6 linked regions of the Homo sapiens genome follow. The protein of the gene in region 6 interacts with the protein of the main gene of each other region in a biochemical or structural test. Each region holds a gene or a part of one and is shown on either strand. Other genes may lie near its edges. The genes, in order: HSPB1, PARK7, YAP1, TLK1, POLI and MAPKAPK5.

Region 1 (4,969 bases), on a different chromosome or scaffold from region 6:
CGGGTGGATTACTTGAGGTCAGGAGTTCAAGACCAGCCTGGCGAACATGGTGAAACCCCATCTGTACTAAAAATACAAAAATTAGCCAGTGTCGCGGCACTTGCCTGTAGTCCCAGCTACTCAGGAGGCTGAGGCAGAAGAATCACTTGAACCTGGGAGGTAGAGGTTGGAGTGAGCCTAGATCAGGCCACTGCACTCCAGCCTGGGCGACAGAGGGAGACTCCATCTCAAAATAAATAAATAAATAAATAAATAAAACATAGAAGATGTACAGTAAAAACACGGTAATTGTTTTTGTTTGTTTGTTTTGAGACAGGGTCTTGTTCTGTCATGCGGACTGGAGTGCAGTGGCACCATCAGGCTCACTGCAGCCTCGACCTCCTTGGCTCAAGTGCTCCTCCCACCTCAGCCTCCTGAGTATCTGGGACTACAGGTCCACGCCACCATGCCTGGCTAATTTGTTCTGAATTTTAGTAGAGATGGGGTCTCACTGTGTTGCCCAGGCTTGTTCCAGCCTTCTGGCTTCAAGTAATCCTCCCACATCAGCCTCCCAAAGTGCTAAGATTACAGATGTCAGCCACTGCACCCAGCCAGTAATATAATTTTATGGGACCACCTTCATATTTGCTGTCCCTTGCTGACTTACACATCTTTATGCAATGCATGACTGTTACCATCATTATCATCTCTATTTTCCAGATGGGGAAACTGAGGCACAAAGAATCTAACTTGCACAAGTTCATCTGCTTAGTGATGGAACAAAGATGTGAATTCAGGCAGTCTGGCTTCAAAGTCCACACGCCTAACAACCACACCAGATTACTAGATTGCTTTTTTCTTTTTTCTTTTTTTTTTTTTGAGATGGAGTCTCACTCTGTCACCCAGGCTGGAGTACAGTGGTGAGATCTCGGCTCACTGCAACCTCTGCCTTCTGGGTTCAAGCAATTCTCCTGCCTCAGCCTCCCCAGCAGCTGCGATTACAGGCGCCCGCCACCACACCCAGCTAATTTTTGTATTTTTAGTAGAGATGGGGTTTCACCATGTTGGCCAGGCTGGTCTCAAACTCCTGACCTCTGGTGATCCTCCCACCTCGGTCTCCCAAAGTGCTGGGATTACAGGCGTGAGCCACCACGCCCAGCCCAGACTGCTTTATTTTTGTATTTGTATTTATTCATTTACTTATTTTGAGACAGGGTTTTGCTCTGTAGCCCAGGCTGAAGTGCAGTGGTGCAATCCAGCTCACCACAGCCTCTACTCACCGGGGTTCAAAGGATCCTCCTGCTTCAGCCTCTGGAGTAGCTGGGGCCACAGGCATGCACCACCATGCCCAGCTAATTTTTAAATATTTTTTGGTAGAAGTAGGGTCTCACTATGTTGCCCAGACTGGTCTCAAACTCCTAGCCTCAAGGGACCCTTCTGCCTTGGCCTCCCAAAGTGCTGAGATTACAGGCATGAGCCATGCACCCAGCCCCTTTTTAAAATTTTTTTGAGAGACAAGACTTTGATCTGTTGCCTAGGCTGGAGTGCAGTGGTGAGATCATAGCTCACTGCAGCCTCAACTCCTGGGCTCAAGCACCAGACTCCTTTTATCACATTCTATCTCACACGCGTGTGGTTCCAATCCTGCCTCTGCCACTTCTCAGTTGTATGCCCCAACCCAACCTGTCTGGCTCTGTCCTCCTTAACAGAAGGACGGCCCTGGCCACGGGCCACAGCCAGCAACGCTTAAGCACCAGGGCCGGCGAGTGCCCTGCCGTGGCACGGCTCCAGCGTCGCGCTCTCGAATTCATTTGCTTTCCTTAACGAGAGAAGGTTCCAGATGAGGGCTGAACCCTCTTCGCCCCGCCCACGGCCCCTGAACGCTGGGGGAGGAGTGCATGGGGAGGGGCGGCCCTCAAACGGGTCATTGCCATTAATAGAGACCTCAAACACCGCCTGCTAAAAATACCCGACTGGAGGAGCATAAAAGCGCAGCCGAGCCCAGCGCCCCGCACTTTTCTGAGCAGACGTCCAGAGCAGAGTCAGCCAGCATGACCGAGCGCCGCGTCCCCTTCTCGCTCCTGCGGGGCCCCAGCTGGGACCCCTTCCGCGACTGGTACCCGCATAGCCGCCTCTTCGACCAGGCCTTCGGGCTGCCCCGGCTGCCGGAGGAGTGGTCGCAGTGGTTAGGCGGCAGCAGCTGGCCAGGCTACGTGCGCCCCCTGCCCCCCGCCGCCATCGAGAGCCCCGCAGTGGCCGCGCCCGCCTACAGCCGCGCGCTCAGCCGGCAACTCAGCAGCGGGGTCTCGGAGATCCGGCACACTGCGGACCGCTGGCGCGTGTCCCTGGATGTCAACCACTTCGCCCCGGACGAGCTGACGGTCAAGACCAAGGATGGCGTGGTGGAGATCACCGGTGAGCCCCCCTGCTCCTGCAGGGGAGAGGAGGAGGCTAGCAGGGCGGGCAGGGCCGGGGGCGTGCGGTTGAAACGGGGGTCCCGGGGGCCTGGGGAGTTAAACGTTGGCCCAGCACCGGGAAAAACAGGACTCCTGATTCCCTTGCTCAGGAATTGGGAGTGCGGGTCGCTTCTAAGGGCGCTTTCTGCTCTGTAATCCCAGCGCTTTGGGAGGCCGAGACGGGAGGATCGCTTGAGGCCAGGAGTTCAAGACTAGCCTGGGCAACATAGCGAGACGCGCCCCCCCGCCCCGACCCCGCGCCATTACAAAAAAAAAGCAAACAAAAATTTTTTTAAAGATCATCGATGAAGAGAGAAAATGCGCTTTTCTACAGAGTCCCCTTCCCACCCACAGCCCCATCCCCAGATAAGCGGGGAGTTCCCTGGCGCGGTGCCAGTTTCTAGCCGCTGAGTGGGCGTGTGCGCGGCTCCAAGTGCGCCTGCGTACTGCTCACTCCCCAGCTCCGCGCCCTGCTCCGTTCCTCCCAAAACTCTGAATCGAAGAACTTTCCGGAAGTTTCTGAGAGCCCAGACCGGCGGGCACGCCCCCATCCCCAACCCCCTCTGTTAATCCCTACCAGCCTGCAGTCCTGGCTGCTTCCAAGCAGGAGGTGGGGCCTCTGGCCTAGCGGGGCCGAAAGGCAGTCCCCTCCCCCGCAGTCTGATTTCCCTCTTCCCCCCAAAGGCAAGCACGAGGAGCGGCAGGACGAGCATGGCTACATCTCCCGGTGCTTCACGCGGAAATACACGTGAGTCCTGGCGCCAGGTCGGGGTGGGTGGGTGGCGTGGGGGTGGGGTCAGGGAAGAGGGCACAGGGACCCACCCGGTGTGTAATGTAACGCTTGCCTTTCCTCTCTGCACGTCCAGGCTGCCCCCCGGTGTGGACCCCACCCAAGTTTCCTCCTCCCTGTCCCCTGAGGGCACACTGACCGTGGAGGCCCCCATGCCCAAGCTAGCCACGCAGTCCAACGAGATCACCATCCCAGTCACCTTCGAGTCGCGGGCCCAGCTTGGGGGCCCAGAAGCTGCAAAATCCGATGAGACTGCCGCCAAGTAAAGCCTTAGCCCGGATGCCCACCCCTGCTGCCGCCACTGGCTGTGCCTCCCCCGCCACCTGTGTGTTCTTTTGATACATTTATCTTCTGTTTTTCTCAAATAAAGTTCAAAGCAACCACCTGTCACTGGCCCAGGCCCTGGTGTTTGTGGAAGGAAGCCTCAGGCACCTGCCATTTGCTGGCTTTCAGGAGTCATCTTTGCTCAGGCCCGTGCTGGGCCATGTGGGTACACTGGTGTAGGTTGCTGGACACAGGCTGACTCACATCCATAAAGACAGAGGTCTTAGGGCCGGGCGCAGTGGCTCATACCTACAATCCCAGCACTTTGGGGGGTTGAAGCAGGAGGAGTGCTTGAAGCCAAGAGTTCTAGACCAGCCTGGACAACATAGTAAGACTGTCTCTAAAAAATAAAAATTAGGCAGGGTGGTACTGCACGCCTGTAGTCCCAGCTACTCAGGAGGCTGAGGCAGGAGGATCGCTTGAGCCCAGGAGTTGTGAAGGGTACAGTGAGCTAACATCGTGCCATTGCACTCCAGCCTGGGCAACAGAACAAGATCCTGTCTCAAAACAACCAAAAGCCCAGAGAGAAAGAGTGAGACCCCATCTTTAAAAGAAAAAAAAAAAAGGTCATGATTGCAAGGTCACGATTGCAATTAAAACTGTAAGGTGGGGAAGGAGGAGGAAATAAGAGAAGCACCTGAGGCTTGAGTTCTCAGGAGCACCTAGGTTGGGTCCCAGGTGAAGGGGCACAGAGGTAATTGCACCTCAGAGCTGATGGGAGGATTACTATGTCAAAAGCTTGGCATCGGCTTCAGCACACCCCAAGGACACCACAGTGGACCTGGCAAGCTTTGAGATCTCTGTCACCGCCACACTCCCTGAGGCCAGGGCATCCCTGTTGGCAGTCACAAGGGAACTGGCAAGCCGAAATGGGGTGAGAACGGAGCCCGCAGAGTCTCGGGGTGGGGAGATTGGGCAGAGCCCTGGCCAACCGACGGGCTCAGACCTGTGCTGCTGGCTGGGCCAGCAGCTCTTGTTGCCTGTGTTTATTTCCAGCTGGCCTCCCTCCAGGTGTAGACAGGCTTCCAAGGGCCCAGTTCCCCTCTCTCTTGTCTGCCCTTGCCCTAGCTGCCACCCTCTCACCAGGCCCAGGGAAAGTTGAGGTAGAAAGCAGATGGGGGACCAGGCGCGGTGGCTCACACCTATAATCCCAGCACTTTGGGAGGCCGAGGCGGGTGGATTACCTGAGGACAGGAGTTCGAGACAGCCTGGCCAACAGTGAAACTCCGTCTCTACTAAAAGTACAAAAATTAGCCGGGCATGGTGTTGCATGCCTGTAATTCCAGCTACTCAGGAGGCTGAGGCAGGGGAATCGCTTGAACCCAGGAGGCAGAAGTTGCAGTGAGCCAAGATCCATGCCACTGCCCTCCAGCTTGGGGGACAAGAGCAAAACTCCATCTAAAAAAAAAAAACAAAAAAC
Region 2 (5,426 bases), on a different chromosome or scaffold from region 6:
ATTAGAGGAATGGGTAGATTGTGGCATTCAGTGCAACACCAAGCAGCAATTTTAAGTGGATAAACTTAATCGACATGTATCTTCATTTCTGAGAACCAGAGGAGTATAGGGTTAACAGACTCTGGGGCCAGGCTGCCTGGGTCTGAGTTCTGGCTTTTGTACTTACTACGTGATGTGGGTACATTATTTATGTCTCTGTGCCTCAGTTTCTTCAACTGTAAAATGAGGATGGTGATATCTAACTCACGACATTGTTGTAAGGTTTATCGGCACTTAGAATGCTGCCTGGCACAGAGTTAGTTCTACTTCACTTCACTGTTCACTATTTTTAGATAGAGAGAGATAATATATAAACACGCAAAATGAGAACCACGGTCAAATGCTACCTTAAAGACATGCGTGGGGGCGGGTGCAGTAGCTCACATCTGTAATCACAGCACTTTGGGAGGCCGAGGTGGGTGGATCACGAGGTCAAGAGTTCAAGACCAGCCTGGCCAAGATGGTGAAACCCCATCTACTAAAAATACAAAAAATTAGCCAGGCATGGTGGTGCGCACCTGTAATCCCAGCTACTTGGGAGGCTGAGGCAGAGAACTGCTTGAACCCAGGAGGCAGAAGTTGCAGTGAGCTGAGGTCACACCACTGCACTCCAGCCTGGGTGACAGAGCAAGACTCTGTCTTAAAAAAAAAAAAAAAGACACACATGCATGGATACACAAGAGTGCGAGGATAGCACTTATCTTTAAGGAAGGAAGAAGGGGCATAGGATTGGAGAAATTTACAAAGGGGGCTTCAAATGTATTTCTTTGAAGCATCTGCTCTTTAAGAAACGAGTCTGAGGGGCCGGGCATGGTGGCTCCTGCCTGTAATCCCAGCACTGTAAAAGGCTAAGGCGGGCGGGTCACTTGAAGCCAGGAGTTCGAGACCAACCTGGCCAACATGGTGAAACCCCATCTGTACTAAAAATACAATTAGCCGGGCGTGGTGGCGGACACCTGTAATCCCAGCTGAGGGTGAGGCAGGAGAATCTCTTGAACCCGGGAGGCAGAGGTTGCAGCGAGCAGAGATCACACCACTGCGTTCCAGGCTGAGCGACACAGAGAGACACCATCTCAAAAAAAAAAAAAAAGAAGAAAAAAGAAATGGGTCTAAGGACAGTGCAGTGGCTCACGCCTGTAGTCCTAACACTTTGGGAGGCCTGAGGCGGGTGGACAACTTGAGCTCAGGAGTTGGAGAGCAGCCTGGGCAACATGGCAAAACCCTGTCTCTACAAAACATACAAAAATTAGCCAGGTGTGGTGGCACGCATCTGTAGTCTCAGCTATTTGGGAGGCTGAGGTGGGAAGATGGTTTGGGCCCAGGAGGCAGAGACCGAAATGAGCCAAGATCCTGCCATCGCACTCCAGCCTGGACGACAGAGCTCAAAACAAAAGAGAAATGGGTCTGAAGGAAATATGGCAAGACATTAACAAGCGTTAAATGTGAGCAGTGGATCAACAGGTATTTATTCTTATGTCATCTCTGAAATTTTGTGTATATTTGAAATATTTCATAGAGCACTTTGAATATTTTATTCAAAATGATTTAAAAATCCAAAAACATTTAAAACAGGAATGGCTAAAAATCGATGTGGGACTTACCCCAGCTCGCCTCATGACATCTACAGGGATGACCGTCTCCATTTCCTCTGCTCCTTTAGCCAGGATGACCAGAGCTCTTTTGGAAGCCATTTTTATGTTATATGTTTACAAGCCTTAAAAAAAAAAAAAAAAAAAGATTTCAAAAAACTTTCATTGCAACCCTGAGATACCCCAAAATTTAAAGTTTAGGAGCATTTTCAAGCAGAGTAAGTACTTCCTAGGGAAACGGTTTTCATAGACAACTGAATACGAAAAAAGCAGCAGTTTAGTTATCTTAACGTTGATTTGTATAGCAGTTTTAATTGCTCTGAGATGAAAACATAATGAGGGTGCTAAAAGGTGTAGTATTGCTTAGATTTTCTTCTACCATGTTCTCTTAAATCCAACTTTAATAGTATGTTGCAAATGGGTTTTTTAAAAATACAAGTACGTGGGTCTCCTGCATTTCACACAATGCGGGGAAACAGTCTTTTTTGAAGCACTGTTTCAGAGAAACGACTAAACTGAATTTCATGGGCAAAAATTTAAATGTGGTCTTTCGCAATTAACTTGTAATTTTTTGGAGGGGATTTTTGTTTTCTTAGTTATAACTGTACTAAAAAATTGTGTGTGGGGGTCAACAGTGTTAAATGTCTGAACACTTTTTTTAATGACTGAGAAAGATGGAAATCCCCTCACTGAAGTCAACCCAACTACATCTGTCTCTCTGCGCGGAGTTCTCACTGCCAACGACAGCAGCTCAACGAGGTTCCGAATTTTTTTTAGCCTATTTACAGATTATCTGGAGGGTTTACCGTCCACGCAAAACAGAGTTTAATAAAACGGCTAGCCAGTTCCATGCCGGCGAGAGGTTAGGCAGAAGATTCTGGACGCTTCAGCGTTGCCACCACGCTGGCGGTCAGTCAAATCCAACGCCAGCGACAGGGCCCGACTGGGAGGCCGGAAGCGAGGGCGGCCCCGACCCAGGCCCCGCGCCGGTTCTGAGCCAGCGGGACACCGTCCAGCACAGGGACACCGTCCAGCACCCCCACGCCGCCCAGCGCCACGGCCCACACATGCGCCGCGCCCCCGCTGGCGCTGACCTGCACCCCGCGCCTCTTCCTGCGGACGCGGCGCCCCGGCCCGTTGGGTACCACTCACCCCACACCAGGCTGAAAATGAACGCACGCCAGCACGCACGCGCGCCGTCCGGCCTCCCTCAGCCCCACACTGCGCAGACTCACGCCGCCTTGGCCTCACGCTGCGTCACGTCCGGCCGAGTCTACCTCGGACTGAGGCGGGGGTGGCACCGGGGAGTTTCTAGCTGGACAGCCCTGGGTGAGGCGGCTCGGTCCCACATGGTACCCCCCACGAATGGCACAGTCCGGCCTGCCCCGGCGCCCGCGGGGCTTAACAGTCTCTACCGCCACCCTCCGTGAGGAGCCGGTCTCTGGAACTGCCGAGGGACTGGGGTTGTCAGAGGGGTTCCTTAGTTCGCGCTCCGTGCACGCCTGCTCCCTTTGCGTTGTTCCTTTTCTGGCGCGCCTTCCCGTTTCGCCTCTGGTCTGTTAGGACTCTGGTCCAGGCCTCCCGGACCTCTCCCCCACGCCTGGTCTCCCGATCTCGGGCGACTCTGCCGCATTTATTCACACCCGGATGTCTCAGGGGTGTGAGTTTTTTTCTCAGCATTGTTTGTTTTCTTTAACGATCCTGATGCTGCTGCACCCACAGGACTAGAGCAGTGCTGCGCACATAAGTCTAATAAGTACCAAGTTGGTCAGATGTATTTACATCATAATCTCAAGTTGTATTTATTGATATGTAAGAGACGTATGTGTTTTCTGGGTACATGTGGTATTTTGATACTTTCATATAATGTGTAATGATTAAATCAGGGTAAATGAGATCTCTATCACCTTAAACATTTGTCTTTATACTGGGAACATTCCAGTTACTCTCTTCAATAATAACATTTTAAAATATACAACAGATTACTGTTAACTATAGTCACCCTACAGAACTCTGCCAACGCTAGGTCTTATTCCCTCTTAAGGAGAGCACAGATCACCTGGTGACCATCAAGCAGGCCCCTTATCTGAGGAATTTAGAAGTAATTAGATATCCCTATTATCTAAAGTTGGCACCTGGTACCAGGTTAAATCAAAGGAAATAGTTAAAGCCCAAAATTCTTGAATGAGCTTAGAAGGATCCTGGCTAAATGAACGCAACTTGGATTGAATTTGCAAAAAATGAGACATTCGAAAAGGGACATGAAAAATCCACCGCGGCATGCTCAGTTCTCTCTTGCTGAGGCTGCACTCTTCTGCAGCGTTCTAATAAAACTTTCCTTTTTCAAACCTATATTGTTGTCGATAAATTCTTCTTACCAACCAGCAAGTCGACCACTTTCTGATGCTGGGGCTCTTGACACCTTGCCCAGCACTTCTACCAATTTTTGTACCTATTAATCACCCTGTTCATCCCCTTCTCCTGGCTACCCTTCCTGGCCTCTGGTAACCACCAACTTATCTTCATGATATCCACTTTTCAACTTCCCATTTATGAGTGAAATCATGTGATGCTTGTCTTTCTTTGCCTGGCTTGTTTCACTTAACATAATGACCTCCAGTTCCATCAATGTTGTTGCAAATAGGATTTTATTATTTTTTATGGCTGAATAGTATTCATTGTGTATATTTACATTTTATTTATCCAGTCATCCATTGATGAACATTTTGGTTGATTCCATATTTTGACTGTTGTGAACAGTGCTACAATAAGCATAGGAGTGCAAATATCTCTTTGATATATTGATTTTCTTTCTTTTTTTTTTTTTTTGAGACTCCATCTTGCTCTGTCGCCTAGCCTGAAGTGCAGTGGCACCATCTTGGCTCACTGCAACCTCTGCCTCTGTGTTGAAACAATTCTCGTGCCTCAGTCTTTCGAGTAGCTGAGACTACAGGTGTGTGCCACCATGCCTGGCTAATTTTTGTATTTTTAGTAGAGACAGGGTTTTACTATGTTGGCCAGGCTGGTCTTGAACTCCTGACCCCAAGTGATCTGCCTGCCTCGGCCTCCCAAAGTGCTGGGATTATAGGCGTGAGCTACCGTGCCTGGCCCTTCCTTTCTTTTTGGTATATACCGGTAGTGGGATTGCTGGATCATATGGTAGTTATGATTCCAGAACTTATGATTTCTCAGAAGTTAATCTTCTGAGGATTCCATATTGTTTTCCATAGTGGCTGCACTAATTGAGATGCTCGCCAACAGTGTATGAGGTTCCTTCTTCACATCCATCTCAGCATGTTATTCCCTTTTTGATAAAGGCCATTTTAACTGGGATGAGATGATATCTTACTGTCTTTATTTGCATTTCTCTGATTAGTGACATTGAGCCCTTTTTCATATCTCTTGGCCATTTGTATCTCTTCAGAAATGTCTATTCAGATCTTTTGCCCACTTTTAAATCTGATTGTTTTCTTGCTATTGAGCTCCTAATATATTCTAGTCATTAGTCCCTCATCAAATGGATAGTTTGCAAATATTTTCTCCCATTCTGTGTGTTGTCTCTTTGCTTTGTTGTTTCCTTTGCTGTGCATATACTTTTTAGTTTGATGTAATTCCATTTGTCTGTTTTTGCTTTTGTTGTCTGTGCTTTGAGGTCTTTGCCCAGATCAATACCCTGGAACATTTCCCCAGTGTTTTCTTTCTTTTCTTTTCTTTTTTTTTTTTTTTTGAGATGGAGTCTCGCTCAGCCGCCTAGGCTGGAGTGCAGTGGCGCAATCTTGGCTCACTGCAACCACTGTC
Region 3 (4,937 bases), on a different chromosome or scaffold from region 6:
CATCACTCTATTCGGCTGCTAAGCATGGGACACACATCAGACATTTTAGTCTATTACTGAATAACTGAACTTACAGAGTTGCGCAGAGTTCATTCCAAACCACAGGGGAAGCACATGGGCATTCCTGAGGACAGAGTTTACAGGGCCATTTTCCTGGTGAGGAACTGCTCCCTGCAGAACCCCACTTCCTACAGGCCCCACTCATTCAGTAAACATTCACTGAGCATCTGCTACTACATGACAGGCATTAGACTAGGCTTTGAGGATAAAGAGGTTAACAATCACCACCACCTACAAACAATGTTTTGTGAGAGGCTCACAACTTCAAGGAGGGAAATGAACAAATATACTAATGAATCATATTTAGGGGCTATATGAACTCAGATGTAAGCACAGTGCTTTCAGAACAAACAGGGAGCTTAGAAGTAAAGGGTAAAAGTTTCATGGAGGGGGACATCTGAGTGAGCTTTGAGGGTAAAAGTAAAAGGGAACTAAGGGAACTCAGCATTACTACTAAGAGTCAATGCCAAGGCAAGTTGGGGCAAAAAGTATTTAGAGCTTAAGGAATATACATAAATCAAATAGTAAACAAGGGAAAAACCATCAAGAGGTTTTTTTGTTTGTCTTTTTGTTTTTTGAGACCAAGTTTCACTCTTGTTGCCCAGGCTGGAGTGCAACGGCATGATCTCGGCTCACCGCAACCTCTGCCTCCCGGGTTCAAGCGATTCTCCTGCCTCAGCCTCCCGAGTAGCTGGGATTATAGGCATGCGTGACCATGCCCAACTAATTTTGTATTTTTAGTAAAGATGGGGTTTCGCCATGTTGGTCAGGCTGGTCTCGAACTCTTACCCCAGGTGGTGGTCCACTTGCCTTGGCCTCCCAAAGTGCTGGGATTACAGGCATGAGCCATCATGCCCAGCCAAGAGTTGTTTTTTTTTTTAAAGAAAAAAAAAGTCAAAGTCAGATGTATGTTATTATTAGAAACTGGGGGTACTGCAGAGAATGCATATACAATTCTGCCCTTAGATTAGTAACACTGATTATCTGCCACTCTGATCTTCCCAGAAAATAGAATCTCAAATTGTAGCCCAGCTCTCATCAAAAGTTTTAAGAAAAAAAATCTTCATAAGTGACTGTCAGAAGGATATGCAGCCTATCCATTTTTAAAATGGTCTAATTTTTATCCCTGGGATTAATATAGCCCCTTCAACAAGACAGGTACTGGAATTACATGGATATGAAATTTTCCTTGTTGGAAAAAAAGTTCTGAGGCTATGCCTCTCTTAATTAGCCTCAGTTTAAGTCTAGAACTATAATCTTATATAAATACACTTACTTTTAGAACTTTAAAGTGTATGTCAGAAGAGTAAATACAAACTTAAAATACATTTTAGATGGTCTTCAAAATCAAACCTTCCAACTAGGCCACCAGTACTAATCTTAAAAACTGAGTAAATGGTGAATTCTATTGCACTAAATACTTTTAGCAGGATAAGATATTTTCTCTTGGAATTACTAAGTTTCCAATTCAATTGGTGAGAACTGAAAAGGTGGTGTAATAGTTTTCCTAGTGCAAAATACCTTTGAGTATTTAAGAAAGTGTGTTATTTAAATCAGTTAGAAAAGGAATCCAAAGCGTAAACTAATCCCATATTTTAAAAAGTTTGAAACTCCACAACCTAGAAGAAGGAATTTTAGTTAAATCTTAATCTTAAATGACTTCCTAGGCAAAGAATATGACCTGTTTCAGCTTACAGACTTCAAAATGGCAGTTTATGTAATATTGCAATCTGTCTGAAACCCAGGATTTGTGGTAACTCACTAAGAAGCATCCCTAAGCTATGTTATTTTCAAATACTGCCGTTAATCTTAGTGCATTTTTGAAAGAGGCACAACCTTACATTTTATCTCCTTGGACTATAGCCCTTAAGAACATGAGGCCTTACAGTGCTGCTGGGTGAAACGTTTTAGCTTGAATAGCTATGTGGAAAATTCCTTCCAGTGATCCTTATAATGCAATCCTAAGTAGGTTTAACATGAAATTCATTTGCTTTCACAGAAAGGCATTCACATGTTCCTTCATGATTCTGTAATTTTAAGTAACTGTTAGTCAACAGTATAGGCAGAAGCAAACACGTCATGACTTTGAATAAGTATCCCTTGTACAAGTCTGAACAGTTCACTTCCTCTCACAGGAGACAACTTTTAATCCTCAACTCTGCATGTACTTGCCATTTACAGAGAGATTCATTTACAGCTATGGTTTTTGGCCCACACAGATGTTCCAAATAGCCTATTACAAGCACTAAGCAGAATGATTTTAAAGCAATGATCCTTTTCAGATATTCACCAGTAGCAACTTTCACCAACCTGTTAAGGAAAGGATCTGAGCTATTGGTCGTCATTGTTCTCAATTCCTGAGACATCCCGGGAGAAGACACTGGATTTTGAGTCCCACCATCCTGCTCCAGTGTTGGTAACTGGCTACGCAGGGCTAACTCCTAATTAAAAATAAAGCCAAAGAGAATCAATCTACTGATTAACACATTTAATGTTAGGTTTAAAGAAATAAAACGTTCATCAGAGTAACCGTGCAGATAGATTAAAAACATCTACTTTAAAGTTAATACATTTCCCAATCAGAATGACCTAATTCTATCCATTTCAAATGACTAAAAATTAAGTTACATATATTTAAAGTCTGTCTAGTCATATTAACCACCCCCCACCCTATATACATTTTGCTACTTTGTTTTCTTTTTGTTATTTTCCTTACTCTGGAAGATACTCCCAAATCCTCCTTTGGGTTATTATAGAATGGCAAGTCTGGTCTTTAAAAAAAAATTCTTCTTTTTTTTTTTTTTTTTTTGTTCTTCAAGACGGAGTCTCACTCTGTCACCAGGCTGGAGTGCAGTGGTGCAATCTTGGCTCACTGCAACCTCCGCCTCCTGGGTTCAAGTGATTCTCCTGCCTCAGCCTCCCGAGTAGCTGGGACTACAGGCACGCACCACCACGCCCAGCTAATTTTTTGTATTTTTTTTAGTAGAGACGGGGTTTCACCATGTTACCCAGGATGGTCTCGATCTCTTGACCTCGTGATCCACCCGCCTTGGCCCCCCAAAAGTGCTGGGATTACAGACGTGAGCCACCGCGCCCGGCCCTAAAAAAATAATTCTTAAAGTTTGCTTTTACTCGACAACTCTTATATGGTTTTGTGTGTTTGGAACCCCCCGACCCCCTCCCCCGCCAAAAAAAAAGAAGTAGGAAGAATAGCATCTGATGATTTTACTATAAGACACCAATCCTTCCCCAACCCCCAACACTATTTCACACTTTGCTATTAAATGTCTCATTTTGACTTTAGGTTTTTCTATCCTGAGCTGGATAGAATATGTTCCATCCTCTAGCAGGGAGAGAGGAGGAAAATGAAAAAAAGACATCAGAAGTTAAAACACAAACCCAAGGCTTCTCCACCACAAACATAATATTTAAAATGGGGTAAAATTTCTTCAGGGTCATCCAACAATTTCTCAGCAGGATTCTCCCTGTAAACCTGAGCAAAGGCTGTAGGTTGCTACTCTGATGGTTGCAGAAGGCCTGCCTTCAAGGGCTTCCAAACCTCCCAGGTTTCAGCCTGTATTTGCCCAGGACCTCAAAAACAGTTCATCTCACTGTGACCCATCCGTAGCACACTCATTACTACTCTGTCCTTTTTCTCTCCTTTATCTGTTCACTGTTTCTTACCCTCCTAAGAATTTTCACTGTGCCTCTCCACCTATCGTAAACATCATCTCTACTAGACCATCAGCTTTCTTTCCCTCTACTTTTTGGGTTTGATTTGAAATACATACAGTTTCTTATCACAAAGGATACTGGCCTGACTCCGTCATCCTTCCACACAGCTTTCTGAGCCAAGTCTGCTCACTGAGGCACGGCCCCACCATCTCCAGCCCTCACCTCCACAATCGCCATGGGGTCCTGAAGTATGGAAAGCTTCTCCTAGCTCTACGCTGCCACTTCTAAACTACAATTCTCCTGCATGCAAATACCACTTATTTTTCTTTAGGTTTATGCCTTCTGGATATACCATCCTTTAAACCAGAGTTTCTTAACCAGCGGACCATGACAGAATTCAGAGAGTCTCTGAACTTCAATGGGGTAAAAAAAAAAAAATTACACATTAACTTTCGCTAAATTTGTCAACATTTTCTCCAATGTAGTATGCACCATTAGTATTCACTGTACCTAACTTTTCACCAATAGAACATATAAATGTTTTCATATCACATTGTAGTTGTTGCAAATATTTTAAAATACCATTTATGATCATTGCTATTTCAATGCTACAGTAGTTACGTTATAAGATGTGCTTCTAGATTTTTTTTTTTTTTAATCTTTTTGAGACAGGGTCTCACTCTGTCACCCAATCTGGAATGCAGTGATGCAATTATAGCTCACTGCAGCCTTGACCTTCTAGGCTCAAGTGATCCTCCTGCCTCAGCCTCATGAGTAGCTGCAGCCACAGAGGCACACCACCATACCCAGCTAATTTTTTGTATTTTTGTAGAGACAGGGTTTTGCCATGTTGCCCAGCTGGTCTCAATCTCCCAGGCTCAGATGATCTACCCTCCTTGGCCGCCCAAAGTGCTGGCATTACAAGCATAGGCCACTGCACCCAGCCTTAGATCTTGTTATTTATACATTAAAAAGAAGCACGTTATATCACAAGTTTCTATTTAATATTTTCTTAACTGTATCAATGAAATTCCTTTTCTTTTCAATCCTGTACTTTAAAAAAAAACAAACACCAATGTCCTGAGAGGGAACCTAGGGACTTGGCCAAATGCCAAAATTGTTTGCCTGTCTTCCCTGCAAGGTAAACTGCTTCTTGTACTCAAATTTACTGATCTCTTCGTTACTCCATCTTATATACGGGA
Region 4 (4,937 bases), on a different chromosome or scaffold from region 6:
TTAACTACCAATAACATTCATCCTCTAATAATATTTTCACATTACCATCAGTTATTATTCTACAACTATCACTGTAGATATCATTCCGATCACGTACACTATATGTAAACCTTTAACAAGTCCCATTATCTGCAGAATTGAAACCCAAACTCTCTAATATCACAAGGACATTATCCTTTGTTTCACTGTGGTATAACTAGCACAGATATGTTGAAGAAAAGTTGAATAAATCTGCTGAGAGAGAAGGCCATTCTGTGGCAAGTCCTAGGAGGCAGTGTTTGAACAGCAATGTTGGTGTGATACCATGTGAAAGTAAGTTCTGCCTCTATTTCAAATAACTGGATACTCTGGAAAAGCTGATGTTCATGCTGGCATTACTCCCCATTTTCAGGTTTAAAAAAATTTTCCACCAAAAACGGAGTAGCATATTTAGCACTCCTTAACACATAAACAGCCAATAAATCCTTTTCTACCACCATCTGAACTCAAGAAAATATGGTAACTATAATTCCTCTGTTTAAAAGTTTGATCTGAAAAGTAACAGAAAACCAAACACCGCATGTTCTCATGTATAAGTGGGAGCTAAACATTGGAGACACATGGACATAAAGATGAGAATGATAGAAACTGGGGGCTACAAAGATGAAGGAGGCAGAGACAGGGGCAAGGATTGAAAAACTACTGGGTACTATGCTCACTACCTGAGTGGTGGGTTCAATTGTACCCCGAACCTCAGTATCAAGCAATATACCCCTGTAACAACCTGCATATATATTCCCTGAAACTAAAATAAAAGTTGAAATTAAAATAAATAAATAATAAATAGAGTTTACCTCAGAAACGCTAAAGCCACATGTTCAGTTTAACTGATAAATCAGTTATTATATCTGAGGCAAAAGAGAAGTTTTTTCCCTTAGGAATAGAGAGCAGGCAAGTGCTGAACATTAACATGTAAGGATTGGGGAATGGGAAAAAACTAAGTAGGAAAATCCTAGGAAATAAACACACACACAAATCTTCCAGTGAAAATTAAATTTTCAACAATTTCCCTCTCAAAACATCATCTGTAAAGCTAAAGGTTCAATTAATATCTCGGAAAGTCAGAATTAGAATAATATATTACATTCTATAGATGACTGCTAATTAATCAAGAAATTACTAAGCTAAAACTGTAATACTCTTGGTTTCATATCCCTTTCAAAGGTACTAAATTCTATGATTTCAGAGTAGCGAGGAACTGGAGAGCATAATTACAAATCTATAATCTTTTAAAGTAATGAAAACCCAAACGAATACTAAAAACTTTTAAATGTTAAGAATGACTAACTTCACAAGATTCTGAAATGCAAAACCATCTGTCCATTGTTCAGTAAATGAAGCGCCATGTCTAACTGTTGTAAAGTGCCCGAGGCGTAATCGATCTTGCATACTCTTCTCTCTGCTTGACAGCTTTTCTTGTGTACTCTGAAAAGGAGAAAAAAAATCATCACTCAATTGTATTCATTAATTTATAAAAGCATACAAAGCAAAAGGGGCTAATGAAGGGAAAGCGAAAATTTACTCAACTTTTAGCCTACCTTTTCAATAAGAAGTTTCTTGCTCATTGATATGCACTTATTTAATCGTTCTTTGTATTTTTCAAGTAATTTTTGTTGTTCATCTATTTGCCGTCTGAGATCACAGTTAGCCTATGACATAAGTAGAAAATGCAAGAGGTCTAGACTGGGGAATATGAAAAGCTTAGAAATAGTTTTAATGTTCTAAATAAATTATATACAGATAGGACTAATAATATTAAATATCTGAGTATGATACGAGAAAAAAAAAAAGCCTACTTAACCATGAGATAATACTGTTAAATGTTACTTAAGTGTGTAGTGGAAAGTACATACAGGGAAATTTGTATCCATATCCATACATTCAAATCCATACTCTAAGGTTAACTTTGGCTAAGTTATAAGAACTTTAGTTCAGCTTTCTTATTTCTAAATAGAAGCAACACAATCTACCTCACTTTGTTAAAAATAACTAAAATATGGTATATAAAGTGTCTATCACTTAAAAATAAATGTGAGTTTTCCTCTATCTCTTATAATTAACAAATTAAATGTGGGTTTTCCTCTATCTCTTATAACTAACAAAATATTTTCTCCACTGAACTTATAAATGACATACACAAGTTGCCTACCCAACAACTGTCCTCACCATTCTTCCTTAGCAATAGGATACTAATTCTGTTCACTTTGTAGGTGGCCATATGCTCAGAGAAGAGGCTTCCTTCTAACATCAAAAGATGAGTCTGATTAGTACAGTGGCAAGAGAATAACCTATAGGGCTTGTTACAACAGATTACTGGGAACCATTCCCAGAGCTTCTGAATCAGGTCTCAGGAAGGACCTGAAAATTTCCGTTTCTAATAAGTTCTCCAGTAATACTGATGCTCCTGGTCTGAAGATCACACTTTGAGAATCAAAAGTCTAGGCCAACCATGGTGGAATCCACAAGACAAGGGCACAAAATCTTAAAAGTGCTGAGAGAAAAGAATTGCCAACCTAAAATTAGATACCCAACACAGTTGTTTTTCAAGGAAGAGGAAACAGAATTTAGCACCAATAGACCCTCAGCAATTCAAACAAAATCTCAACACTGTGTGTGTATGATGCATATGCAACTTGAAACCTGATTCTAAAATTTCTCTAAGACTGTGAAGGGCCAAAAATAGCCAAAAAGAAGAAGAGGATATCTGTTTAACCATGTATCATGACTTAACATAAAGCTACATAACTATGATCACCCAAGCCTCCTCCTTCCTTAATAATGGAAATTCAATGTTTTATCCTGGATTGCTATCTGCCTAGCCAAATGACTACAGTTCCCAGCTTCCCTTAGAGCGAAGGATGGTTAATGAGATGCAAGCAGAAGTTGTTCAATGAGATATCCAAGAAGGCTGCACACAGAATTGTGCTTTGTGTTCTCTGCTCCCATCCTCCCTCCTGTTATCTGCTTAGAACACAGATATAATTGTGACCCTAATAGATATATTGAACCTTGATGTGACCTTTGAGATATAAGCCATGAACTAACAATGACAAGGTCCCTTATGATACTGAGGAGTAATAATATCTGAGCTGCCCACTTCTGTTCTTCTCTTGAAAAATAAGCTTCTATCTCATCTGAAGTACTGTTATTTATGTTCACTGTTACTAACAGCCAAAAACAACTGATAAAAATTGTTTTATCAACAATGATAAAAAGATGCTGCAGTACTTGTGTAGAGACACAAACAGAACAAGGAAACATGATACAGAACACAGAAACAGATCCACCTGTATACTGGAAACAAGATTTTATGATGATAGAGCTGGCAGTATAAGAATGAGCTTTTAATTAAATGGGGATGAACAACTGGTTATCCATATAGAAAGAAATTGAAATGAAACCCTACATCATGCCATACCCAAAACCAATTTCAGTAAGACTAATAATTTATATTGAAAGATCAGCTGGGCATGGTGGCTCATGCCTATAGCCCCAGCACTTTGGGAGACCAAGGTGGGAGGATCACTTGAGGCCAGGAGTTCAATACCAGCCTGTAGACTCCCAGCTCTACAAAATAAAAAAAAATCAGCCCGGAGTGATGGCATGAGCCTGTAGTCCTAGCTACTTGGGAGCCTGAGGTAGAAATATTGCTTAAACCCGGGAGTTTGAGGCTACAGTGAGCTATGATCCCCCACTGTGCTCTAGCCTGGGCGACACAGTGAGACCCTGTCACTTAGCGGGGGAAAAAAAAGACCAGACCAAAAAACCTTGAGAAATAACTGGTATTATACAGTAAAATGGAAAATGCGTATGCCCTGTACTCTGGCTATGTCTTTCCTAAACATATACCACAGAAAAATTCTTTCATATGTGCCCTGAAGACATGTACAAAGAATGTTCTTAGAACTGTTTATACTAGAAAAAGTAGAAATAAAATGTCAACTAAAAGCAGAAAAGATACAGAAATTATGGTATACTTGTAACACCTTACAATATTGCAATGAAATGAACAAACTACAGTTATACTCATCAAAGTGGATGACTCTCTGATATATTTCATTGAAAACAAGCTGGGCAAAAGGGTCCATACTGGAAAATTTCACTTAACGTTCAAAAACCAACTGAAATAATATGTTGTGAAGAATGTAAGCACATATTTAATACAACCATAAAGAAACACCAAGGCATCACAAATACAAAATTTAAAATAGTGGTTAAATGGTAAATGGGTGTGAGAAAGTAAATATGACAGGATCAGGAAAAAGACACACTGGATGTTTTAAAGACACTGTCAAATACAGTAGGATCACAGGTGTTGGTTTTATCGAGTTTCTACACCAGTAGTTCTCAATGCTGTCTTAAATTAAAGTTATCTGGGAGAGCCTTTAAAACTACCAATGTCCAAGACCTACATCATCATCAACTTGATCAGAACCCCTCAGGGTAGAGTTTCAGGCATTAGTACTTTCACCCTTCCCAACTGGTGAGTCTAAGGAGCATCAAGGGGTAAGAACTGCTGCTTTAAACCCTTACATTCTTAAGTATACTTCTAGATGTATTTTTAAATAAAGCTTCCATTAAAAATCCTACAGAACTGCAGCAGTTACTTCATCGTATAGGTATCAGATGTCAGGCATATAATAAAATCAATAAACTTTAACATGAAATGGCTATTTGTGTTATGGTAGTTGGTCATATAAATGTTATTAACTTCCAGTTCTCCAACAGTTTCTCAATTCCCAATTTATTGAAGATCTAATAAAATATTTCACTTTAAAATTGGTATTTTTCAATCATGTACTTAAACTAACAGAAAAAGCTTATTGAGTTCTAGCTACAGAATTTTTTTTTTTTCTGAGACAGAGTCTCACTCTGTCGCCAGGCTGGAGTACAGTGAC
Region 5 (4,937 bases), on a different chromosome or scaffold from region 6:
GCCCTTGCTTCCTCTCTCACCATGTGATCTCTGCACACACTGGCTCCCTTTTGCCTTCCACCATGAGTGGAAACAGCCTGAGGCCCTCACCAGAGGCCTAACCTTGACTTTTCCAGCCACAAGAATCATGAACCAAATAAACCTTTTTTTCTTTATAAATTACCCAGTCTCAGGTATTCTGTTAAAGCAACACTAAATGGACTAAGAGATCACTGCCACCCTGTTATCCACTTGACTAATCTCTTTCATGCTTCATAGGAATACTGTAAACAAATTCAATAAGCAAATTCCAAGGGCCTGTGATAGTGACTGTGTAGTGGGAGTGCTTAATAATTAACACATTGTGAAAACTGATCTCATAAAAAAATTCCTACTGACATTGGCAAAACTTTTACTCATATTTACCCGTAAGTAGGCATAGAAGTATTATTATATAACAAGAAAGCTAACATTATACTTTAAAGATCTAAATCTTAACCACGCACTAGCAGTATATGCTGCTAGAAACAATCTCTGACCTGTACACAGTTTTAGAGCTCTTTTATGAAAAGTGTAAGAAAATTATATAAAAATAAATTTGCTTTAGGTGTAAAACAGTGTTGGAATGACATGAAACCATCCTAACCTCAAAGAGACTAACGCTAAAAGTATTTAGAGATGAAATGTCAGGATGTCTGCAATTTACTTCCAAATAGCTCATCAACCAACCAAGCAATCCATAGAGAGAACAAGAGAAAGCAAATGTGGCAAAACGATAACAACTGGTTTATCTACAAGAAAGGACATAATGGGCCAGGAGTAGTGGCTCATGCCTATAATCCCAGCACTTTGGGAGGCCAAGGCAAGCGGATCATCTGAGATTAGGAGTTCAAGACCAGCCTGGCCAACATGGTGAAACCCCGTCTCTACTAAAAATAAAAAAATTAGCCGGGTGTAGTGGCACATGCCTGTAGTCCCAGCTAGTCGGGAGGCTGAAGCAGGAGAATTGCTTGAACCCAGGAGGTGGAGGTTGCAGTGAGCCGAGATCACATCACTGCACTCCGGCCTGGGCGACAGAGTGAGACTCTGTCTCAAAAAAAAAAAAAAAAAAAGAAAAGACATAATGGGTATTTTTTGTACTATTCTGTCAACTTTTCTGTAGGTTTACAAAAAATTTTAATAAAATCTGTATGAAAGAGGAAGAATTAATCAATAATTCCACATTTCCCTTTTTGGGATATAAAACCTAGCTCTCTATAATGTACTCTAACCAATAAAATCCAAGTTTGCCTTAAAAATTATACAGAAATATATTTGAAATATTCTTGCTAGTTAGCCCTTTTAAGTTACAAATGAGCACAAGTACAAAAGATACAGGAAAAGCTCCATGTATTCTAGAAACTGTGGTTCTACTGCTTTTCTTCTGTGGAGAACTATTCTGTAGACCGATGTCTAGTTCTCAAAAAAGAGGATAAGAGGAAATGCATGGGGAGGCTTAAGAGCAAAAGGGTCAGACAAGTCTTACACAACAGCAGAGTACCTTGTCTTGTATGTGGTATGATAGGGGAGTCACCAGCAGAGTCATAAGATGTCTGAAAGCCTAATCAGATATTCACTGGTGCTTACTGCAGCTTATTTTCAAATGTAAATATCACTGGAAACACCATCAGTCATTCATATCTCAATATATGAAGGAGACAAACCATTCTGCTTTCTTGCTAACTTTGACAAAGATTATTTGAACAGATTAAATAGGAGCTTGGAGAAGATTCTAGCACATGGCAGATAGCCCTGGACAACATTCCAAAAGTGCTAACTTGGGAATTCAGAGAGCAACATGAGGGTCTCAGGGGAATCGAAGTGAACATGTAAAACACACATCAAAGGGGAATCGAAGGGAACATGTAAAAGACACATCAAAGGCAAATCTAGCCTACCTGAAAACTCTGCTTAGAGATTGTTTTAGAATAATAAAAAATTATTCCAAAAAGCATATTAAGAAGCCAACTCTTACAACTTAAGAATGACCTACAGAGGTATGGCTTTTTGTTTCCTTAAGAGATGGGATCTTGCTCTGTTGCCTAGGCTGGACTCAAACTCCTGGGTTCAAGCAATCTTCTCAGCTCAGTCTCCCAAACAGCTGGGACTACAGGGGCGCTCCACTGTGCCCAGCTGGGTATGGCTTTCTAAAATGGGAACCAATGCACTGTGTCAGACGAAAACTCTGCACAGATGAATGCTCTGTGCAGATGAACAGGAACAATGCTCTGTGCAAATGAAAAGTGCACAGAGCATTGAGCTACATGTCATCAAAATCTTAACACTTATTATGGAATAGCAGCACCTAATTTTAGCTGTCCTAGACAGATTACTGACTAAATATAACTATACCTCCAACAAAAGTCATGAATCTTTCAGAATCACACAGCGAACTCACTGAACATTAAGAAATGTATGTACTTTTGGTTAGTAGGTAGAATGAATAAGAACCCACTCACACTGATTATTGTATACATGACCCGACACAGTCACCGCAGAAAGTTCATCACTTTGCAGCTGCTGTAGTCTCTTCTCAACCATTTCTGTTAGATCCACAAAATTTTCATCAAATCCAAGTCTCTCAACAACTGGACTAAATTCTTCCAGTAATTCTAAATTGAAATAATATTGGAGCACAAATGTAAATGAAGTTATAACTAGGATAAATTTAACTATCTAGTGCTTAAAAATTTATCAAATTTATTGTTAAAGGTTTTATATACATTCATAGTTCCATAATATCTTTAATAAAGCCCTCAGTTAATTGACGTTTTTTCTGTACCACATCTTGTATAAAGGCAATATTTTCAAAAAAGTCTAAAAATGACATTCCTAGGGCAGTTATTCATGGCAATATATCTAGCTCAATCTTCTACACCTATAATTTTTATATCTGTAGTACATTAAATATCAATGCTTATAGTAAATTGGTGACCTTGAAGAAATGTGTCAAAGAATAAACTATAGGCTGCTCAGGAAAGTTAAAAACAAGTAATAGTATATTTTAGCTATATTTTCTCCAAGAGTTTAAAAGAGGCAAAACAAAATAATATTTAAAATGTCCAATTATTACTGAATAAAACAGAAAGTCAGTCAACTTTCAAAATATACTATAACGTGGTATTTTTATTAGCCATTCCCAAGAATATTCCTTAGGACAGAGAGGCAGAGATGAACCACAACTTACAGGTATTCAAATGCCCAGCGTCTAGCACAATATCTAGTCCTCAAGTCAAATGTTTACTAGATTAAGCTGAACCAAAATTCAAAATAAATTCAAAAAAACTATCAATTTTCATATATTAACATTGAGACTAATAACTTTAAAATCATTGAGAAAGTTTTTCACTTCCCTCTGAATCACTTTCTACTGACACCAGCTGGATAAGAGAAAACAAATGCAAGTCTCTTAGTATACAAAAATGCATAGATTCTTAAGGTCATATAATCTGAAGCTCAGAAATAAAAGGACTATCTCATTCCACATAGATCATGTTTTTTCACAAACACCAAAGGTGCTTTTTTGTTTTGTTGATGTCAACATTGACAATGTGAGGGGAAACCAATAAAGGTAACAATGTGACATGGCAAACACCAAAAATCACTCCTGAGAAAACTATTACCTAGAGAAAACTATTACCTCCTTTCAGGACAGACTGACAATATGTCTAATCAAAGAAAATGATTGTTTTGCATTTCCTTCATCAATTTCGGCAATTTATTTTCAAAAGTATATACCTGATATGCAAAGTAACATGTAGAAAACAAGAGTTTATCAAAAGAATACTACATAAGAAAAATAAAGGATAAGGCTTTAAGCACTAAATAGAAAAGCAAGTTAAATACAGAATCATGCACGAAGCTGGTGGATCACTAAATATTGACTGATTTTAGGTCACAGGACAAATCCCTAATTATCCCGTCCCTGAAGGTTTTTGTTGTTGCTGTAGTTTTAATGAGACAGGGTCTCACTGTTGCCCAGGCTGGAGTGGAGTAGCACACCACAGCTCAGTACAGCCTTGACCTCCTGGGCCCAAGCAATCCTCCTACCTCGGCCTCTGGGACTGCAGGCACATGCTACCAGCTAACTTTTTTTTTTTTTAACTTTTGTAGAGACAGGGTCTTGCTATGTTATATTGCCCAGACTGACCTCAAATGATACCCCACCACAGCCTCCCAAAGTGTTGGGATTACAGGCATAAGCCACCATGCCCAGCCTCCATTCCTGAAGTTAACCTCTTTCTTGGTATCAACTTCATAAGCAAGATACATTTATTAAACATATAATTATATAGGGCCCAAAAGAGGAGTCTGTAATTACAGAAAAAAAAAATACCTTGAAGAAAGGTATATATGCAGTAGCATCAAAATATGAAATAAATAATAAGGTTATAAACAGATCAGAGATAAATACAGTAAAGGACTAACTGGCTACGCGCCTACTTCAACTCAGAAAAATACTGTGAGAAAAATTGATAAAGTAACTTTTTTCAAAAAATACCTAACACAAAAAGTACTAGGTACTTAGTACTTAGAAAAAGATGAACAACCCAAATTAAAAACAGGTGCAAGTGAATACGTTAACAGAAAAAAATACATAAATGACCAAAAATATATGAAAAAATACTCAACCTTACTCATGGAAAACTGCAAATCAAAACAATGATTTACTCTTCTTCATCTATATGATGAATATGAGAGGAGGCATTTAGGCCATAATTTTACACATTTGGAAAAACATGATACATGACTTTGTACCTTGCCTTTTATTCACTCAACAAGCCCTATCTCCATCAGTCAAATAGTATTGCACCAATGAATTCTTTTTAATGGCTATATAATATCCATTATACAGATGTTTTAGTTTATTTGGCTATTTCTCTTGATGGGCATTTTTCCTTCCATACTTTTGACAATCA
Region 6 (4,937 bases):
TTAGGTCAGCTTCTTAATGTTTCAGGGTTTTTTGTTTCTTTTTCTTTTTTTTTTTTTTAACTTAACAAAATCAAATGCTTTCAAACAGGGCCCGACTCTTAATTGTAATGGAGATGATGGAAGGGGGAGAGCTATTTCACAGAATCAGCCAGCACCGGCACTTTACAGAGAAGCAAGCCAGCCAAGTAACAAAGCAGGCAAGTTAACCCCAGGTACCAATCAAACTGCCACCAAAGTTGGTTAACAAGCACAATTTCATTGGGGGGAAGAAAAGAAAACTTAAAGAAAAGCTCTATTTGACTTCTCATTGCCTGCTTTGTTATGTAATCAGAAAAGATGTTTTGACAGGAGAAATGTGACCCCTTTTATACTTGGGGGTGGGGGTACTGTGTTCTTAATTGGTTGTCAACTGTTTCCTGAGGCTGCTGTGAGATTTCAATAAACTCTGGAAGGAAGGCATCTTAACTGCTTTGTAGACTGCAGTTATCTTTAGGCATGTAGCTACCAAGTACTGTTATTGGACTTTGCAATAAAATGCTGCTGATACCACCTGAAAGATTGTATGGTATAAAAATGTATTTTAAGAGAATTGTACATAAGATGCTTCCTGCATGTGAGCCACCTTTCTGTGATTTCTTCAGATTTAATAATATCCTAAGATCTTTGTAATTCTGAATTATTCCTGGTTATATTCTATGTTGACATCACATTTTATTGCTGTAGAAATGATTTATGTCACAAACAATACTAGGAATCCAGCTGATAATCACTTCTTGCAGAGGTGAAAAGCTAAACCCTCAAGGCTTATCTTCATACCAGGCAAGCAAAGCAAAGAGAATTAGGAAGCACAGCCCAATTGCTTCTTAATAAAAAGTTCTTCCAAGTTTCCCATGAACCTTAAGCAATTTTGGATGCCTCCTTTCTGGTAGGGAGGAACTGATACTTGGATTGCTGAGAAAATGCCATATGGAGAGTTAAAGAACAAGTAAAATCTGTTCTTTCTGTTTGATTTTTAAAATTATACCTTTAATTTTTTCAAATATTAGGATTAAAGGATGAGCTCTGATAATCTTCTATAAAATAAAACCCCTTCAAATCCACATAAACAGGCAACATTTTCAACAAGCATGATGAGCAAAATGAGTTTCCAGTATGAATTGGAAAAACCCAGTCAGCTGATTTCTTGACCCTCAGCTCCCTGGAGAGTGCCATTCTTGTCTGAGCCCTGCTGTGGGAACTGCGCCTGCTGACCATTGCTCAGCTTAGGTGTTTCTTCTGCAGTGTCTGTCATACCTCAGATGAATGAAAGTGGGAGCATTTCATTTTTCCCATTTCTTACAGGATTTACCCATCAGTTTATTCTGACAAAGAATTGCTGTACCATCATATTTTTCTTTCTGTCTGACAAAATACAAGTTGCAGTTAAACTAAGCTTAATCCATTCTGTTTCTTGGTATTCCAAGTTTTTCTTAATTTCTGCTTTAAAATTGAAAGTGAACGCAGTCTTAATGAAGGCTTGTTTTTTGACATCCTGAGTTCTCTACGCCAGGTGTATTAAAGAGTGGTCTTTTCTAAGAAGCGACTGTTTCATTGTGTCTTTTTTCAGATAGCTTTGGCTCTGCGGCACTGTCACTTGTTAAACATTGCGCACAGAGACCTCAAGCCTGAAAATCTGCTTTTTAAGGATAACTCTTTGGTGAGAAGACTGTTTTTCTGCATTTTAGTGCTGCAACTCTTAACATAGTTCAGGAGTGGGTGTGTTTGGAGCGCTCTGAATTCATGGTGAAAAAGCTTTAAGCCAAAGTGCTTCAAACAGCTTATTTCTTCAACTCGTTCCCTTGCTAGAGGCTCAGAGAAGCTGTACTACTGTACTCCCGGCATTGATAATTTTGGATGATACTGATATGTATTTGTGGGACTTAATGATTTTGGATATTATTTGGAGGACCTTTGGGAAGGGGCAGGAATCTGTATGCTGTTATATATTATCTCGTTTCATTTGCTGTTTTCCCTTTCAGCTCTGTCCCCTGCCCCATGTCTCACCAGATAAGTTGCTCTGTCTATCATGAAGCTTATGGCAGATATTAAAAGTGAAGTAGCATCCCAGATTGATGAGAGGTGATGGGCTTATAGAGTGAAGGGTCCCTAGGCCAAGACCTTGACGTTAGTGCTGCCCTTACAAGTTCTAAAGCAAAAATAGCTGTGTGAGTGGGTAGGAATTCCTTACTTCTGCATTACTAAGGACAGTTCCTCAGTGTGAATCATTGTCTCCAGACCTGGGGACATGTTATTTTCATAAGTTCGCATCTCAGCTGGAAAGAAACTTGTTAGATCTCAGGGTAACATGTCTTACACCTGGATTTTCCTTTAATGTTTACTGAGCACTCTGGAGCAGTGACTCCTTTTTTTTTTAATTTCAGGATGCCCCAGTGAAGTTGTGTGACTTTGGATTTGCCAAGATTGACCAAGGTGACTTGATGACACCCCAGTTCACCCCTTATTATGTAGCACCCCAGGTAAGCATGTGCGGTTTCTGTCCTAAGATCTGTCACCAAGCTGCCCATCAACTCGTGTTCCTTCTATTCTACAGCACAAGTAGGCATATATTACAGATGGGAGGGGGAGAACTTAGCTTTAGAAACCTACAGATTGCTTTATTTGGTGTAGATCTTTTATTCTTTTAAAATCAACTTTAGCCAGGTGCGGTGGCTCACGCCTTTAATCCCAGCACTTTGGGAGGCTGAGGCGGGTGGATTACAAGTTCAGGAGATGGAGACCATCCTGGATAACACGGTGAAACCCTGTCTCTACTAAAAAAAATATAAAAAATTAGCCGAGTGTGGTGGCGCACACCTGTAATTCGTGCTACTCAGGAGGCTGAGGCAGGAGAATCGCTTGAACCTGGGAAGTGGAGGTTGCAAGGAGCCGAGATGGCACCACTGCACTCTAGCTTGGGCGACAGAGCGAGACTCCGTCTCAAAAAAAAATAAATAAAATAAAATAAACTTTATTGAGGTATGATTTAGAAGTATGATTTACATACAGTAAAATACCTCCACTTCAAGGAGAGTTTGATGAGTTGTGACAAATATATACCCCATATGGCGACCACCACATTGAAGATGTGGAACACGCCCCTCACTTCACAAGCTGCCTGTGCCACTTTGCAGTCAGTCCCCTCCCAACTTAACCCCTGGCCCTAGGCAACCACTGACATGCTTTCTGTCATTATTGGTTAGTTTTGCCTGTTGAAGAATTTCAGAAAAATGTAATCGTGGACTTTGTATGCTTCATTTCTTTTGCTTAGCATGTTTTTGAGATTTGTCCATGTTCCTGCATTTATCACTCGTTAATTCCTTTTCATTGCCAAGTAGTATTTCATTATATACCTAAGCTGCATTTGTTTTTTCCATTCACTGACAGGATTTTGGGTTGTTTCTCATTTTTGGCTATTATGAAGAAAGCTGCTAGGAACACTTCTTTTACAGTTTTTGGGGGACATGTTCCCCCATGCCCATATCTTTTTTCCAAAATGGCTATACCATTTTATGCGTCTACCAGCAACGTATAGAGTTCCAGTCATTTCACATTTTTACTAACGCCTCATGCTTGTTGCTTGTCAGCATTTGTCATCTTAGTCATTCTGGTAGCGGGCAGAGTATTACTTCATTATAGTTTTAATCACGACATTGTCCTGATGGCCACTATTTTGGAGCACTTTTTGTACATGTGTATTGGCCATTCTGTTGTAAGTATGGGCATTCATCTTTTGCCATTTTGTTATTGTTGGTTTCTTGTTAAAGAATTGAGGTATAAGAATTTTAAAATATTCTGGACACAGGTTCTTTGCCATATGTATGTTGTATTCTTACTGCTGCTGTAACATATTGTCACAAACTTAGTAGATAAAAACAACAGAAATGTATTATCTTATACTTCTGGAAATGAGAAGTCTGAAATGGTACTCAGTGCTATAATCAAGGTGTCAGCAGGGCTGTGTTCCTTCTGGAGGCATTTCTTGCCTTTTCCAGCTTCTAGAGGCTGCCTACATTATTTGGCTTGTAGCCTCTTCCTTCATCATCAGAGCCAGTAGCATAGCATCTTCCAATGAGTGTCTCTCTCTATGACTTTGACCCTCTTGCCTGCCTCTTATAAGGACCCTACTGATCACATTGGCCTTACCTAGATAACTCCCCATTTTAAGATTCTTAACTTAATTGTTCTGCAATACAAGGTAAAATAATCCCAGGGATTATAACATGGACATCTTGGGGGGCCATTATTCTGCCTTCCATATATATATCATGAATATTCATCTCAGTCTGTGACTTGCCTTTTAATTTTCTTAATGGCCTTTGAATAGCAGAAGTTTTGAATTTTAATGAAGTCTGTTTCACCATTTTTTTTTTAATGCTTAGTACTTTTTGTTCCTAAGATCCACAAGCATAAATATTTTCTCTGATGTTTTCTTATAAGAGGTTATAGCTTTAGCTTTTACATTTGGGTCTGTAATTCATCTGAGTTTGTGTGTGTATGAAATGAGAGACCAGGTTCTTTTTTTCCCCCTTAAGGGTGTCAAGTTGTTGCAGCATCATTGGTAAAATGTTTTTTACAAATCATCATTTGTAAAAGGATTTGTAAAAGGATTGCATCATTGAATTGCAGTTTTTTGTTTGTTTGTTTGTTTGTTTTTGAGACGGAGTTTCATTCTTTTTGCCCAGCCTGGAGTGGTGCAATGGCGCGATCTCGACTCACTGCAACCTCTGCCTCCCGGGTTCAAGGAATTCTCCTGCCTCAGCCTCCTAAGTAGCTGGGATTACAGGAGCCCGCCACCATGTCCGGCTAATTTTTTGTATTTTTAGTAGAGACGGGGTTTCACCATGTTGGCCAGGATGGTCTTGATCTCTTGACCTCGTGATCCGCCTGCTTCGGCCTCC

What was found.
Region 1: of the proteins of MAPKAPK5 (region 6) and HSPB1, one has a biochemical effect on the other in vitro, tested with the Homo sapiens proteins (4 studies listed by BioGRID and IntAct).
Region 2: the proteins of MAPKAPK5 (region 6) and PARK7 form a complex in vitro, tested with the Homo sapiens proteins (one study listed by BioGRID).
Region 3: of the proteins of MAPKAPK5 (region 6) and YAP1, one has a biochemical effect on the other in vitro, tested with the Homo sapiens proteins (one study listed by BioGRID).
Region 4: the proteins of MAPKAPK5 (region 6) and TLK1 form a complex in vitro, tested with the Homo sapiens proteins (one large-scale study listed by BioGRID).
Region 5: the proteins of MAPKAPK5 (region 6) and POLI form a complex in vitro, tested with the Homo sapiens proteins (one large-scale study listed by BioGRID).

What each region holds. Positions count from the first base shown.
Region 1 is NC_000007.14:76,300,683-76,305,651, forward strand, and holds HSPB1 (heat shock protein beta-1), read left to right. Parts: upstream 1-1,990; 5' UTR 1,991-2,030; coding exon 2,031-2,394; intron 2,395-3,119; coding exon 3,120-3,183; intron 3,184-3,301; coding exon 3,302-3,491; 3' UTR 3,492-3,610; downstream 3,611-4,969. UniProt on the Homo sapiens protein: Small heat shock protein which functions as a molecular chaperone probably maintaining denatured proteins in a folding-competent state. Plays a role in stress resistance and actin organization.
Region 2 is NC_000001.11:7,959,090-7,964,515, reverse strand, and holds the start of PARK7 (Parkinson disease protein 7), read right to left. Parts: upstream 2,806-5,426; 5' UTR 2,723-2,805; exon of another isoform or gene 2,435-2,722; intron 1,754-2,434; 5' UTR 1,731-1,753; coding exon 1,641-1,730; intron 1-1,640. UniProt on the Homo sapiens protein: Multifunctional protein with controversial molecular function which plays an important role in cell protection against oxidative stress and cell death acting as oxidative stress sensor and redox-sensitive chaperone and protease.
Region 3 is NC_000011.10:102,221,186-102,226,122, reverse strand, and holds part of YAP1 (transcriptional coactivator YAP1), read right to left. Parts: intron 2,502-4,937; coding exon 2,371-2,501; intron 1-2,370. UniProt on the Homo sapiens protein: Transcriptional regulator with dual roles as a coactivator and corepressor. Critical downstream regulatory target in the Hippo signaling pathway, crucial for organ size control and tumor suppression by restricting proliferation and promoting apoptosis.
Region 4 is NC_000002.12:171,048,487-171,053,423, forward strand, and holds part of TLK1 (serine/threonine-protein kinase tousled-like 1), read right to left. Parts: intron 1,689-4,937; coding exon 1,578-1,688; intron 1,465-1,577; coding exon 1,328-1,464; intron 1-1,327. UniProt on the Homo sapiens protein: Rapidly and transiently inhibited by phosphorylation following the generation of DNA double-stranded breaks during S-phase. This is cell cycle checkpoint and ATM-pathway dependent and appears to regulate processes involved in chromatin assembly.
Region 5 is NC_000018.10:54,275,396-54,280,332, reverse strand, and holds part of POLI (DNA polymerase iota isoform a (long)), read right to left. Parts: intron 2,631-4,937; coding exon 2,478-2,630; intron 1-2,477. UniProt on the Homo sapiens protein: Error-prone DNA polymerase specifically involved in DNA repair. Plays an important role in translesion synthesis, where the normal high-fidelity DNA polymerases cannot proceed and DNA synthesis stalls. Favors Hoogsteen base-pairing in the active site.
Region 6 is NC_000012.12:111,868,665-111,873,601, forward strand, and holds part of MAPKAPK5 (MAP kinase-activated protein kinase 5), read left to right. Parts: intron 1-88; coding exon 89-197; intron 198-1,606; coding exon 1,607-1,696; intron 1,697-2,420; coding exon 2,421-2,516; intron 2,517-4,937. UniProt on the Homo sapiens protein: Tumor suppressor serine/threonine-protein kinase involved in mTORC1 signaling and post-transcriptional regulation. Phosphorylates FOXO3, ERK3/MAPK6, ERK4/MAPK4, HSP27/HSPB1, p53/TP53 and RHEB.